2 separate regions of the Homo sapiens genome follow, and region 2 is linked to region 1. Evidence: fine-mapped expression QTL. Tissue or cell type: uterus. Region 1 holds a variant in brackets; the other region holds the start of a gene. All regions are shown on one strand. Distances are between the middles of the regions.

The links. PIP is the estimated chance that this variant, and not a neighbour inherited with it, causes the effect.
Region 2: RPAP1 starts here. The variant in region 1 is fine-mapped to the expression of RPAP1 in uterus (GTEx, PIP 0.99).

The regions. Positions count from the first base shown.
Region 1 is chr15:41,824,335-41,832,214 of GRCh38, reverse strand. MAPKBP1 (mitogen-activated protein kinase binding protein 1) reads right to left here. Exons shown (of 31, transcript NM_014994.3): 30 at 7,646-7,731; 31 at 4,360-7,006. The coding sequence ends at 6,779. It overlaps JMJD7-PLA2G4B (JMJD7-PLA2G4B readthrough), which reads right to left and starts at 4,123. Exons shown (of 25, transcript NM_005090.4): 1 at 4,027-4,123. The coding sequence starts at 4,090. It overlaps JMJD7 (jumonji domain containing 7), which reads right to left and starts at 4,123. Exons shown (of 8, transcript NM_001114632.2): 1 at 4,027-4,123. The coding sequence starts at 4,090. RefSeq lists a silencer at 4,146-4,235 and enhancers at 3,970-4,264, 4,296-4,525, 5,571-6,453. The variant G/C (reference allele first, on the strand shown) is at 3,976.
Region 2 is chr15:41,540,960-41,548,839 of GRCh38, reverse strand. RPAP1 (RNA polymerase II associated protein 1) reads left to right here and starts at 4,583. Exons shown (of 25, transcript NM_015540.4): 1 at 4,583-4,621. RefSeq lists enhancers at 4,439-4,828, 4,762-5,343 and a silencer at 5,823-6,023.

The DNA of each region.
Region 1 (7,880 bases):
AGGGGTGTGTGAGCGAATGAGTGTGGGGTTTGGCCACTGCGCACAGCTAGGCATGTGGGCTGCGGTGGGGCAGGCAGCTTCAGGTGCCAACACAGGTGCTGGTTTCCTGCAAGGCTGCAGCTAGACCAGGTGTACCATAAGCAGCTTCCACAGCTGACACTGGGAAGCATGGTGGTGCCTGGAAGCTTGCAGATACCAGGAACCGCAGAGCCCTAAAGAGGGTGTCAGAACCCCAGCTTGGGAAGCTCCTGGGTCTGGACTCCCCAAAGGGCCGCAGTTCTTCTTTCCTTCTGGACACCCACAATGTGGCGAGCAAGACGCATGGTTCAGTCCTCTTCATGTTACAGCTCTTTTAGCCCCGCCACTCAGCAGGTCCCAATTCTTGTCCTGCATCCAGGAAGAATGAGGTACACACAGACAAGCAGAGGGTAAACAAGACAAAGAGGAGCTTTACTGAGCCATAGGATAGCTCAGAGGAGACCCACAGTGGGCAGCTCCTCTCCGCAGCCAGGGTGTCCCAACGAGTGTTCAGCTCTCAGCAAAGAGGATAGCTCCTCTCTCTGCAGGCAGGTAGTCCTGTTGAGTGTTCAGCTCAGCAGAGCTTTGTTCCAGCTGCTCACTCAGACTGGAGTGTCTTTCTGCTGGTTTTTATAAAGTGTACAGGGCTTCGCTTTGCTACATTCATGCTCTAGGTCGAGCCAAAAGGCCGTGGTTTCCATTTGGTGGTTACCACATCCTGCTCCAAATGGTCCCGGCACTGATGTTCACCTCTGAGGTCACACTGCATCTCTCACAGCCACACCATGCCAGTCACCTTTACTTTCTGATCAGTTGGAAAGTGAATGTTCTTAGATCAAATATTGTAACTGAGTGAGAAGACCCCACTGGGCCCAGGAATACTGGAAAAGAAAGAGCTGGCATGCCTGCTTGCTTCCCTGGCTAGAGTAGCTCCTCTCTGTGGGCAGGTTGTCCTGTCATCTCTCCAGCTCTCAGCAGAGAGGGTAGCTCCTCCCCGCAGCTGGTCGTCCCATCGTCTCTTCTGGTCTGGCTGAGTCAGGGGCTTTTTATGGGTCTCACAGGGGAGGAGGTACATGCCTATTGGTCCATGGGCAGCCATGGGTGGGCCGGAAAAAGCACCAAAAGTTCCCATTCCGGTCCATGGAACCGGCAGCCCAGCCCCCAGGCTTCAGGCCTTCCCTGGCTTGAAGGTCGGGCTTCACCGGGACCCGCCACCTTCCACCCAGGAACCTGTCTGCCTCTTGCCACCATTCACGGCACCCAAGCTGTTTGTGCCAAGGGGGTGCCTGCAGGCCAGCACTGAGCTGCCCTCAGCCCCTCTTGGCCTCCCTCCCATGCTCGTTGGCACCCAAAGGCCAGAGGGGGCCAAGGAGGCAGGGGGCTGGTGTGTCAGCACTGCAATAGCACCCAGGCTCGGCCTCAACTTTGCTCCATGATCTGATCAGGTGCTGACAGTGGGGAGAAGCCAGACAGCAGGATCAGGCACTTCCAAGCCTGCGGCAGCAGGAAGGGGCCTTCCTGGGTCCCCAAAAGTGCAGACATGCCTGGGTCCACAGCTGCAGCTTGGGAGGCTGCAGCTGCATCTAGGAGGGTGGGGCTCCTGCCTGCTCCTAGCTCCCAAGAGCACAGGGGTGCCTGAGTTGCAGTCCTGGCTTGGGTGGCTGTAATTGCGCCTAGGGAGCTCCCACTCCACCAACTTGGAAGGGGTGGGGCTCCCACTTGTCCCCAGTTCCCGCCAGCTCTGTGGAACATGTGGCCCCAGCTGCCTCTCCTCTTCACGTTTTCCCCACAGCGGCGGCGGGCAAGGTGCATATGGCATGGCAGCTCTGACCACCCCAAACAAATGAGCCTAGTAGTCCTGTGTTCCGGAAACAGTGAAGAAGCCAGTTTGCAGGAGCAGGGTCTTTGTGCACATGTGTGAGTATTTTTGTACTCACAAGTGCAAGTCCCTACAAGTCCCAGTTGCACCTTTGGCAGGGTGCTCGCAGGCTTCTGGGATGTGGCAGGGAGCGAGGTTCAGGCTGCAGCAGAGGGTCTGGGCTGAGGAGCAGGTCCTGCCCAGCCATGTGAGGGTGGGGGTGGTGCAGTCGGCTGCCTCGGGGATGCAGGGAACAGGGGACTCACTACCACCACTGCTGCTCCCAGAGCCACTTCTGCTGCCCGACTTGTGCCTCCCCACTGCAGCCAGCATGATGACAGCATCTGCTTCCAACTGCCCGCCACTGTCATCAAAACTGCTGGACTCAAACAATCCTCTTGCCTCAGGAGGTGGGACTACAGGCACATGCCACCACACGATGGTGTCTCACTATGTTGCCCACGCTGGTCTTGAACTCCTGGCCTCAAGAGATGCCTCCCACCTTGGTCTCCTGAAGTGCTAGGATTACAGGCGTGAGTACTGCACACAGCCTGGGATTCTGAAAATACATGGAAACTGCCATTTTTTCACCCTTTGGACTTCTGCAATTAGGGATTTGTTTTACTTGCTCACCATTTCCTTTAGAGAATGGCTGCTTTCCTCTCCTGGGGCTTCCAAGTGAGAAAATTTCAAAAGGGATCCAAACAATTGCTTTGACCCCATAACTCTGCTAAGAATTTAACAAGGCCGGGAGCAGTGGCTTATGTGTTCCATGGCGTTCCAAAACTTTGGAATGCTGAGGTGGAAGGATTGTTTGAGGAATCTGAGACCAGCCTTGTCTCTACTAAAATTCAAAAAAATTAGCCAGGCGTGGTGGCGCATGCCTGTAGTCTCAGCTACTCCCAGGTGCTGAAGCAGGAGGATCTCTTGAACCTGGGAGGTCGAGGTGCAGCGAGCTATGATCGTGCCACTGCACTCCAGCCTGTGTGACAGAGTAAGACCCTGTCTCAAAAAATATAAAGTATTTAACCAACAAACATACTCACACATGCGCAGAAGACGCTGCTCCTGCAGACTGGCTTCTTCACTGTTTCCTAAACACATCAGGCATACTCCCAAAGAGGGCTTTGCCTGCACTTACCTTCTAACCTACTTCTTCTACTCTACAATGTACTCATTCAGTACACCTGTGGTTGATTGTCCACGTTCTCACTTAGAATGTAACAGGACATAGACTGTAAAAGACAGATTTGTTTTGTTCAGTGATGTATCTCAAACACACTGAACAGAGCCTGGCACACAGAGATGCTGAATAAGTATTTGTTAAATCAATCCTCAAAGTATTCGTTGCAGCATTATTGAAAACAACGGATTGGACATGACCTAAATGACTAAGTGAATACAGCACTAGCACACAGACGTGAAAAAGACTGAGGTAGAGGAATGTGAAATGATCTCCAAGATACACGGTGCAGAAGAGTGTGTTTAGCAGGCTACTATTTGTACAAAAAAAGGGTAAAAAGTCGTGTGTGCACGGATATAAACAATCTTTCTGTAAGAATGCAAACTGGGGCTGGGAGGAAACCTTGCTTCATTTACATTGCGTACCACTGTATATTACATACCCATCACATACACATGAGCCTGTGTTGCTGTTCAGTGGTAAGAAATCATTTAAAAATAGAAAAAAGAAGGAAGGAGGGAAGAGAGAAAGAAAGAAAAGGAATAAAAACCAAGCAGGGGAAGAGCCAGGGACCATTTGGTCAGCCTGCAATCCTCCCAAAGTGCGACAAGGGAGTTGAGGTCGGAGGTGGGGCGCGTGGGGGAGGAATCCGACCACCAGCTGTGTGCCTTCGATGAGCTTTCAACAAGGGTAACAGCAAGCTGCTCAAGACTGTAGGAAACACAGGGCTTCGCCGCGACCACGGTCAAGACGGCACCGGGCCTTGGGAACAACGTGAACAGAATCACCCAGGAAGCCGCGGGAGCGCGCGAACACGGGAGAAGGGAAGCAGGTTGCCACAGAAGAGCAACCCGAGCGGGGCCTCAGGGCAGTCGCACACACGAGGTTCCGAGCCCCCGGTGTCAGCGGCATCCCA[G/C]GGCCCCTCCCGTGTTCGGAAATCGCCGCAGCCTGTGGGAGAGCCACTCACCCCTTGCAGCGGCCGGGAATTCTCGTAACTCGCTCCGCACGGCTTCCAAAGCCGCCTCCGCCATGGCTGCGTCAGCGCCGGCCGAGACCCCGCCTTTCCCCGACGCCCCGCCGCAGGCCACACCCCAAGCACTCGCCCCGCCCTCCCCAGAGTCCCCGCCGCAGGCCACACCCCCAGACCCTCGCCCCGCCCTTCCAGAGGCACCCGCCGCAGGCCACACCCCCAGCACCCCGCCCCGTCCTGCCCCTGGACACACACCGGGTTCTGCCACCGAAGCGGTGGAGCGACTGGCAGCGCCCGCTTCGGCCTGCCCCACTGGCCGGCATCCCAGGGTTAACAAACAATTGTGTTTATTGACAAGTTCATACATCAGTACAAACGGGCACGTTAAAAACAGCGCCCCCGCCCCATGCAGCCGAGGATGAGGCAGGAAGCGCCGCGACCTGCACAAAGTATAAAAGTTATAAATAAGGGGCTTTCAAAACAAGGCGGGGGCAAATCTGGAGTGGGGCGGCGGTTGCCGGTGGCCTCAGACATGCAGAAGGGGACGGGGCGCCGGCCGGGCCACGAGGCCCCCCACCCACATGGGGCAGAGGGCAGGAAAAGGGCGGCCACATTCTCACAAACTTCTGGCGAAGGGTAGCTCCCTCCTCGTGAAGGACCTGGCCCAGAGGGCGAACCTGAGTCCCACCTGCGGTGGGCGCGGCTGGTGTGGGAAGTCGGGGCACAGCAGGCACGGGCCCGCCCCCGCCGCCGCGGGAGTTCCAGGGCCATGCGGGTGGCGATGCTAGAGGAGTGGGGAAGGGCCAGGTTTGGAGCAGCTCAAGCGCACTCAGGCTGATGCCCCGGAGCTGGGAACCTTTTGTAACCCTTTTTCTTTTTTTTTTTTGAGATGGCGTGTAGCTTTGTCACCTAGGTTGGAGTGCAATGGCGCGATCTCGGCTCACTGCAACCTCCACCTCCACCTCCAGGGTTCAAGCGATTCTCCTGCCTAAACCTCCCGAGTAGCTGGGATTACAGGCGCCCACCACCACGCCCAGCTAATTTTTTTATTTTTAGTAGACAGGGTTTCACCATGTTGGCCAGGCTGATCTCGAACTCCTAACCTCAGGTGATCCACCCGCCTCGGCCTCCCAAAGTGCTGGGATTACAGGCTTGAGCCACCACACCTGGCCCAGAACCCATTTCTTTATAAGCCTCTGCCTATGGCGCAGCAGGGCGGGTGAAGGGGCTCTCGTGGCCTGAAGCTGTGGTAAAGCTGCTCTGACTTACCTGCAGCAGAGGGGAGCAGTAGGGCCCAGAAAAACCTTTCCTCAACTCTTCAACTGCCTCACGACATGGTCCCACTCTACCTCCTAGGGTCCCCTATCTCCTTTCCCTCACCCCTAATTACTGCCCTTTTACATTCTAACTTATCCCCTCACCTCTGCCACTTACCTGTCCCATCTACCACTTTTCTAGTGTCTCCTTTGGCCCCAGCACCTCCCTCCTCTCAAACTCCAGTATCCAGCACACCCGTGGGTGCCCAGCACTGCCTTTGAGGAGGCTCCTTCTACCTAAACCAGGTGTCCTATGGGCTATCTCGTATCAGCTAGGCTGTGGACACCAAGAATCCAGAATCTGGGTTCACTTAGTGTACTGCACCCCTTTTCTGCTCCCTGATAGGTGTTCCACATAAGCCAGGGTGGTGAAGCTGAGGCAGGATGTGAGGAAACCAGGCACACAGCAGCCAGCCAGATACTCTAGCAACCAACACTCAACAGCGTGCTGTGCAGGTAGGTGTGTGTGTGTACATGTGTGCACGTGCATGCGTGTGATCTCATCTGTGGCTGAGGTCCTCAGGAGGTAGGCCAGCGCCCCGTAAACGAGGGATGTTCCAACACAGGCTTCTGACTAAGCATCATTCAGGATGCAGGGAGAAGGTGGCCTCTGGGCTCCAGCAGCCGGCTGGGGTCCAGGGTGGAGGACAGGGAAGAACAAGGGGCTGAGGAAAGGAGGCCAGAGCTTCATGTTTGCCCAGGTGAGGGCTTACTGTCCTGCAGCAACATCCCACAGCTGGCTCAAGTTCTGGCCAGGAGAGTAAGGGGTCACAGGGAAATACAATGCTGGGCCCCTCTTGGAGGGAGAATGGGAGTGGAATGTGCGGGCTCAGGTCCAAATACCAACTCAAGTCTCCTGATGGCTGGGGACACCCTGGAGGGCCAGATGGCTCTGCCTTTCTGAGCTCCAGGTATTGGGGAAAACCACCCTGCTCTGGCAGCCACGGGAGTGCAGCTGGTGTGAGAGGGGAAGTGCAGGTAGAGGTGAAGGCCCACAGTTGGCTGACGGGCACTGAATACCACATCACCTCTCACCTCGACCCCAGAGTACCCTGTGTATGCTCCACCACAGGGAGCTAATCCCTGCAGTAATTTCAAATGGCTTCTAAGAGAGGGCCAGCCCTTCCCAGATTCCTAGATGGGGCAGGCTGCCCTCCTACCTCTCACAGCACCAAGATGACAAAGACCCAAGACCTGTCCCTGCCACTGGAGGGGCTGTGGAGGCAGGAGTTCCAAGGAAGTGAGGCAACAGTCAGGGAAATAAATTAATAAATACAGGCCCCCCACGAGGAGCGGCTGGGAAGGCTGCTTTGCCTCTGAACACTGCTCCCTGCTTTCCACTCCAAGCAGCCCCGCAGGTTTTGGTGAGGGGCAGAGGGGCTGCAGTTTGGAATCGCTGGAGCATTCATTCACTTGGGACAGGCTTCCAGAACTCAGAGTTTGCGTTCCATACGCCGTTCCACGGCTCGAAGCAACAGTTCTGAGTATTGCTCCAGCAGGGCCTGTGTCTGCTCGGCTCCCACAGCCCCAGGGCTGCTGCCTGGGCTGGACAGCACTGCCCCAGCCACAGCTTCCAGCTCCTGTCGCACTGAAGAGAAGGTGTCTCTGAGGAGCTGGGCAATCCGACTTTGCTCTGCTGAGGGCATCTTGCAGCCAGCCACCTGAAATAGCACCCCCAGAAGTGAGGTGGAGGAGCCTGTCAACAGACATATAAAAGGGAGGGGCCCCACCTGGGTCCAGCCTGCCTCAGAAGGGACTAGCTGGGAACTCTACCCGCCAAGATCAGCATGTATGGCCAGGGAACATGGGATGCAGGCAGACTCTGGGGGTGACGCCCAAGGAGGAACCCATTGGATTGCAGAACCGTCTACATCTTATAAGCAACTCCTTATGACAACTCCGGCAGAATCTGCTTTCTCTTTCAAAGTTTGGGCCTTCTTGGACTGTCCCCTATGTCTAAGGGGGCCAAATAATTCATGGATATGAAAAAGGATGCCATTAATAATTACACTGGGACAACGACATAAACTGGGATTGTCCTGAGCCAACTAGGAGGTGTGGTCTCTTCAGGCCTCACCTCCTGAGGGAAGTCTCCAGCTCTTAACCAGAAATGACCGCAGGTGCCCGGTACAAGAGGCTAGCCTGGCCTCTAACCCCCTCACCTATGCTGCCCAAGATGTTCTTGAGTGTGCCATCCTGTCAGCACAAGAGGCTTAGCATACTGTTCTGGACATGGTTATCCGAAACACCCAGCACTACTGACGTGCCCGCCTTCCTGCCGGGGGGCACCTAACACCCACCGAGTGGTAGAGCCGCACTGCCTGGCGCACGCTGCCGCGGAGCTCTGCCACCAGCTGCTCACACTGCTCCAGGCTCACCGCTGGCTCTGAAAGAGACGGATACAGCTCAGTGAGGCCCAGCATGTAGCCCTTTCAGGCCTCCGCACCCAAGACACTCAGAACAGGAGAGACCTAGCCCTCAGCATTGCACCCCCCACTTGCCCTCAGTCCCTTCCTCTTGGCTTCTCTTCCAACG
Region 2 (7,880 bases), 280 kb after region 1:
AAAAATTAGCTAGGCGTGGTGGTGGGCACCTGTAATCCCTGCTACTTAGGAAGCTAAGGCAGGCGAATAGCTTGAACCCGGGAGGTGGAGGTTGCAGTGAGCTGAGATTGCACCATTGCACTCCAGCCTGGGCGACATGAGCGAGACTCCGTCTCAAAAAAAAAAAAATTCTTTTTAGCGACAAAGTCTCATTCTGTCACTGAGGCTGGGGTGCAGTTGTGCAAACAGCTTGCTGCAGCCTCACATTCCTGGGATCAAGCTATTCCCCCGCCGCTGCATCGCTAGGACTATAGGTGCCACCACACCCAGCTAATTAAAAAAAATTTTTTTTATAGAACAGGGTCTTCCTACGTTGCCCGGGCTGGTCTTGAATTCCTGGCCACAAGCAATACTCCTGCCTCAGCCTACCAAAGTGCTGAGATTATAAGCATGAGCCACCACACCCAGTCTTTGAAACAAAAAAACATAGTCTTACCCAATAAAAATTTCATAAATCCTCGCTGGGTGTGGTGGCATGCACCTGTGGTCCCAGCTACTTGGGAGGCTGAGGTGGGAGGATCACTTGAGCCTAGGAGGTCGAGGCTGCAGTGAGTCATGACAGCACCACTGCACTCCAGCCTCGGTGACAAAGCAAGACCCTATCTCAAAAAAAAAAAAAAGTAAATCCTTAATATCATACAAAATCTAGTTTATATTTAGTATTCCCTAACAGTCTCAAAAAAACAGTTTCAAAAATGAAGATATAAACAAAGACCGCATTTCATATGTTATAGTCTCTGCCCAGTGCAGTGGCTTACACTTGTAATCCCAGCATTTTGGGAGGCTGAGGTGGGCAAATCACCTGAGGTCAGGAGTTTGAGACCAGCCTGACCAACATGGTGAAACCCTGTCTCTACTAAAAATACAAAAATTGGCTGGACGCAGTGGCTCACGCCTGTAATCCCAGCACTTTGGGAGGCCGAGGTGGGTAGAACACCTGAAGTCAGGAGTATGAGACCAGCCTGGTCAACATGGTGAATTGAAACCTTGTCTCTACTCAAAATACAAAAATTAGCCGGGCATGGTGGCATGTGCCTGTAACCCCAGCTACCTGGGAGGCTGAGGCAAGATAATCACTTGAACCCAGGAGGCAGAGTTTGCAGTGAGCCGAGATCACACCATTGCCCTGCAGCTTGGCAACAAGAGCGAAACTCCGTCTCAAAAAAAAAAGAAAAAAGTTAGCCAGGTATGGTGGCACACGCCTGTAATCACAGCTACTTAGGAGGCTGAGGCAGGAGAACCACTTGAACCCAGGAGGCGGAGGCTGCAGTGAGCCGAGATCATGCCACTGCACTCCAGCCTGGGCAACAGAGCAAGACTCCATCTCAACAACATAAAATAAAATAAATAATAAATAAATAGTCTCGGCTGGTGCAGTGACTCATGCCTGTAATTCCAGCATTTTGGGAGGCTGCGGCGGGTGAGTCACTAGAGCCCAGGAGTTTGACACCAGACTAGGTGACATGGCAAAACCCTGTCACTACAAAAAATAAAAGAATTAGCCACGTTTGGTTCAGGCCTGTGATCCCAGCTATTCAGGAGGTTGAGGCAGGAGAATCGCTTGAGCTCAGCAAGCAGAGGGAAGCAGAGGTTGCAGTGAGCTGAGGTTGCACCACTGCACTCCAGCCTGGGCAACAGAGCAAGACCCTATCTCAAAACAGTAGAAAAGATTCATCAGTAAGTTCATATAATGGCAACCTGATCCATCCATATAAAGTCTGCATCAACCTTTCACCTAGTTGTTAAACAATGACTGTTAAAACTATTAGGTCAAAGGTTGATGAAGACTTTATATGAGGCTGGGTGTGTTTTCCAACCTTAGCAGGCACCAAAATTAAGTGGAAGGCTTGTTAAAACAGAATGCTGGAGCTGGGGATGGTGGCTTATGCCTATAGTCCCAGCATTTGGGAGGCCAGATCACCTGAGGTCAGGAGTTCGTGACCAACCTGGCCAACATGGTCCAACCGTGTCCCTACTAAAAATACAAAACTTAGCTGGGCGTGGTGGCACCATTGCCAGGAGCCATTATCTCGTTATTTCATTGCGAACAATTATTTTCTACTATCATTCATTCTGCATATTTGGCTCCAGTTCCTCTCCCTCATCCCGCTGCCTCCATAACTTCTGACCAGGTCTAGTACTATTTTGGACCTCAAGATGACTAAATCCTAGTAGCCGAAATTTACATCTGTAGTTGAAGCCAAGAGGATTATAGATCTGCTATAGTGCGGGACCAGCAGCATCACCTAGAAACTTGGTAGAAATACAAATTTTGGGGCTCTATTAGAAACCTACTGAATCGGCTGGGCACGGTGGCTCACGCCTGTAATCCCAGCACTTTGGGAGGCCAAGGCGGGCAGATCACGAGGTCAGGAGATGGAGACCATCCTGGCTAACACGGTGAAACCCTGTCTCTACTAAAAATACAAAAAAGTAGCCCGGCATGGTGACAGGTGCCTGTAGTCCCAGCTACTCAGGAGGCTGAGGCAGGAGAATGGTGTGAACCCGGGAGGTGCAGGTTGCAGTGAGCTGAGACTGCGCCAGTGCACTCCAGCCTGGGCGACAGAGCGAGACTCTGTCACAAAAAAAAAGGAAACCTACTGAAACAGGCCAGGTGCAGTAGCTCATGCCTGTAATCCCAGCACTTTAGGAAGCTGACGTAGGTGGATCACCTGAGGTCAGGAGCTCGAGACCAGCCTGGCCAACATGGTGAAACCCCGTCTCTACTAAAAATACAAAAATTAGCTGGGCATGGTGGCGGGCGCCTGTAATCCCAGCTACTCGGGAGGCTGAGGCAGGAGAATCACTTGAACCCAGGAGGAGGTTGCAGTGTGCCGAGATCATGCTATTGCACTCCAGCCTGGGCGACAAGAGCAAGACTCCGTCTTAAAAAAAAAAAAAGAAAGAAAAAGAAAAACCTACTGAATCAGAAACTCAGAGGTTGAGGCCCAGCAATCTGTTTCGTTTTGTTTGAAACAGAGTCTGGCTCTGTGGCCCAATCTGGAGTGCAGTGGTTCCATCTTGGCTCACTGCAACCTCCGCTTCCCAGGTTCAAGTGATTCTCCTGGCTCAGCCTCTTGAGTAGCTGGGACTACAGATGGACACCACCATGCCCTGCTAATTTTTATATTTTTAGTAGAGATGGGGTTTCACCATGTTGGTCAGGCTGGTCTCGAACTCCTGACCTTAGGTGATCTGCCAGCTTCAGCCTCCCAAAGTACTGGGATTATAGGCATGTGCCACTGTGCCTGGCCCCAGCAATCTGGTTTAACAAGACTTCCAGTTGATTCTGGTGCCTGTTAAAGTTGGAAAGCCACTGGACTAACATTGGCTGCCCCATGATGTCCTTTGGTCTAGAAATGATTTACTTAAGGTCCTACTATGTGCATGGCAACACGTTGGGTGCTCAGTATTTAGATGCAAAGTACAAGGTCTGGTGCCCACAAGGAACTGACAGTCTATTCAAGGGAACAGGACATAAGCCTGTGAAAAGGTAACCGGTGACAGTTGGTAGTTGGCAGTGTGTTCTTAGCATACCACACAACTGGTGCAGGCGGTGAGATTCCAGGTGAATCCAAGGAAAGTTTGGTGAGTAGGCGTGGCTGGCAGAGGTTTTAGAGTTGACGCCAGCTAGGCCTTAAAGAGTTATCCTTTGGAGACAGGGGTGGCAGGGAAAAGAGGGAGGATTTCCAAGAAGGGAGAGTGGGATGAACAAAGGCAAGATTCTGGAGAAGATGATAACCTTGCTAGCAAGGAAGCTTTATTCCCTCTCTTCTCACCACCACTATTTCTGCAGTGCACACTGGCAGTGTTCTTTCCTTGGGCCTTTTTCATGGTTACCTTCTAGCTCTTCCATAAACACATTCGTCACGTTGGGGTGTGTGTGTGTGTCCACGTTTCTGTGTGCTGCCGTGGGCGTGGGTGCTGGGATGTGGGATGTGGTAACACTGGCTGGTGAGTGCAGAGGGACGTCTGAGGAACGCTGTGTCCCTGCCAGGGGTGTCGTAAGTGCAGAAGGGGCTGTGCCTGCTGTACATCAGAAGCATGTGTGGGCCAGGCGCGGTGGCACATCCTGTAATCACAGCACTTTGGGGGGCCGAGGCGGGCGGATTACCTAAGGTCGGGAGTTCGAGACCAGCTTGGCCAACATGGTGAAACCCCGTCTCTACTAAAAATACAAAAATTAGCCAGACGTGGTGGCGGGCACCTGTAATCCCAGCTACTCGGGAGGCTGAGGCACAAGAATCGCTTGAGCCCGGGAGGCGGAGGTTGCAGTGAGCCGAGATTGCGCCACAGCACTCCAGCCTGTGCGACAGAGCAAGACTCTGTCTCAAAAAAAAAAAAAAAAAAAAAGGATGTGTGTTCTGGGTGATGGTATAGAGCTTACGTGGGGGTAATAAACCGCCAGCCGCGCAGCACCGCGCTCACCAGTCCGCTGCACTGAACAAGCAAAGCCCAGAATGCTCCGAGATAAGACCGGGAGAGGCGGGGCTGGGCTGCGGGGCGGAAGCTGGAATCTGGCGGCGGCGGAAACGCGATCTCTGCGGGGCAAGATGGCGGCGCCCAGACAGGCCTGGAGCACGTAGGTGGCGGGGCTGGAGGGACGGATTTCAGGTGATCTGGGAGGAGGACCCAGGGTAGCGTGTCCAGTTTCTTTGCTGGAACCTGCCTGCGGGCCTTTGGTCTGTAAGGGAGCAACTGTGGCCTCCTCTGTGCATAGATCTCGGGCACGGCCCTTCAACGGGCGGCGAAAGCTGCGACTCGATGATTCCTCATTGTAGAGTTGGGTGGTCCAGGAGGCTTAACTGGAGCCCTTGACCTGAGCGGTAAGGGCAGTCACGCGTCCCGACTCGGGATTGGATCCTGGCTCTGGAGGATAGGCTGCAATGTAAGAGCCCCAGAGACTCCTCAGAGGCCAACATAAACCCAGAGGTCCATTGTTAGGACTACTTTTTTTTACGAGTTACTCTTTAGGCATTACTCTTTAGGATTACAGGCGTGAGCCACCGCGCCCGGCCAACCCATTCTTATTCTATTAATAACTGAAAATGTTATCACTTCTAGCACTGATTGGTTCTGGACAAATCTGCGCTGGATTTGTGGGGAAACACACTGGTGGCTTTACTTAGGACTAAAATAATTGTTACTGAGGTTTATTTATATAAGTAACAGGCACTGGGCTAGGCGTTTTGCGTGTATAGTCATTTAAATCCTCACACATTTCCTATTATATAGGACCTGTTACTCACATTTTACAGTTGTGGAAATGGGACTTAAGACAGCATAGAGGCCGCGCACGGTGGCTCACGCCTGTAATCCCAGCACTTTGGGAGGCCGAGGCGGGCGGGTCACCTGAGATCAGGAGTTCGAGACCAGTCTGGCCAACATGGTGAAACCCCGTCTGTACTAAAAAAATACAAAAAATTAGCCGGGCGTGGTGGCAGGCGCCTGTAATCCCAGCTACTCGGGAGCCTGAGGCAGGAGAATCACTTGAACCCAGGAGGCGGAGGTTGCAGTGTGCCGAGATCGTGCTATTGCACTCCAGCCTGGGCAACAAGAGGGAGAATCTGTCTCAAAAAAAAAAAAAAAAAAAAAAAAAGGACAGCATTGATAATTTGCCTAATTTCGCACATTTAGTGCATTTAGTAAGTAGCGGAACTGGTATTTGACTTCTGGCCTATTGATTCCAAAACTGGTGCCCATAACCCCCTGGCTCTCTTTGTGATGTAGGTATGGCGCACCCTATGAAGTGAGCTGGACTTTGCTTTTGGATCACATGAATCCATGGATAAGTAGGAATTGTTTCTGCTTATGTAGACTCTTATAGGAGTGAATTGTTACCATACTATGGATTCTCAGTTCATCTAGTTCAGCCTTCCTTAGGGCCTTTGGGTAGGCATTGGGGTAGGAGACTTTTTCCTTGTTTGTTGGTCAGACTGCCCAACAATTAGATATGGTTATCTGCCCTTTGGCTATATAAATAATAAGAATCATAACTGGCGTTTGTGTCCTTTCATGTATGAGACTCTGTTCTAATCTTCTTACATATATATAATTAATTCAGGAGGTAGGTACAGTTATCTTCATGTTACAGATGAGGAAACAAGCACAGTAACTTCAGTAAAATACCTTGCTTAAGCTTACACAGTTAGTAAATGGCAGAGCCTGGATTTGAACACAGGCAGTCCATTTTCATACTGTTTACCTCCCATCCAGGAAAAGGCACATCTGTATACTTCGCTGTTGTCATGCTACAAATAGTAATTAATACAAGTTCTATGCCAAATTTAAGATGAAATTTTGTAGACAGGTCTTTGCTCACTTCATCCACTTCCTTCAGTTCTCTACTTATCTAAGTTTTCTCTTTCAATATTGACCTCTATTTTTAACCTTTAGGGATTTTTCCCACCTCTGAAATCGTGTAGCACTGATCTTCTATGCAATTAATTTCATCACTGGGATGTACTGCCTTGTAAATTTATATGTGTGTTTACCATATTCTCTCACCCCAACTTTGGGTACATCATTGACCAAAGGAAGACCTTTACAATCTTGGAGACATCATTTAAACTGTAAACCTTTGGAATTTCTAGACTTGTGTGGGCAAAGAGAGATAATGAAGTGGGAAATTATTAAAAGACCCAGCATTTCGGCATGGTCTCTGTCTCCCCAGTAAGCCCCTTGAACCCAGGGACTGGATTTTACTCCCATTTCTTTATATTTACAGCCCCTTGTACACCGCTCAGCCCAGAGTAAACTCTCAAAAAATTTTTTGATAATGTTCTTAAGGTCACACCGTCATGTGATTGTTTCACCATTTCTACCCCTTTAGCCTGCCCCCAACCCCTGTGTTGGGAGGTGTTTCCAAGGCTGGCTTAGTTATTAGATCTGATCCTGCTTAGAAGTAGATGAAGAAAAAGTAAGGAAATGTGTCATTCAGCACTTTTTTTTTGAGACAGAGTCTCATGCTCTGTCCCCCAGGCTGGAGTGCAGTGGCACGATCTTGGCTCATTGCAACCTCCACTTCCCGGGTTCACGCCATTCTCCTGCCTCAGCCTCCCCAGTAGCTGGGACTACAGGCGCGTGCTACCACACCCAGCTAATTTTTTGTATTTTTAGTAGAGACGGCATTTCACCGTGTTAGCCAGGATGGTCTCGATCTTCTGACCTCGTGATCTGCCTGCCTTGGCCTCCCAAAGTGCTGGGATTACAGGCGTGAGCCAGCACACCCGGCCTTCATTCAGCACTATTGTTAGTTCCAGCTATCTAGCTTGTCTACCTCTCCATCTCATCCTCCTTCAACTTTTAGGAGGTGGTCAACTTCATCATGTTCTCCCATGTACCATATTTATTCCCTGCTTTTTTTTTTTTTTTTTTCAAGATGGAGTCTAGCTCTGTCACCCAAGCTGGAGGGCAGTGGTGTAATCTTGGCTCACTGCAACCTCCACCTCCTGGGTTCAAACCGTTCTCCTGCCTCAGCCTCCCAAGTAGCTGGGAGTACAGGCACATGCCACCACGCCTGCCTAATTTTTTTGTATTTTTAGTAGAGATGGGGTTTCACCATGTTGGCCAAGCTGGTCTTGAACTCCTGACCTCAGATGATCCACCCACCTCAGCCTCAAAGTGCTGGGATTACAGGTGTGAGCCACTGCGCCCGGCCCTATTCCCTGCTTCTATACCTTTGCCCAGCTCTCCCTTCTGGCTGGAGGCCTATCTTATCCTTCAAGGTCTGGTTCAGTGGTTTTCAACTGGGGGTGATTTTTTTCTGAGGTGACATTTGGCAATGTCTGCAGACATTTTTACTTGTCACAACTAGGGGAGGAGGTTTGATGATGACGTCT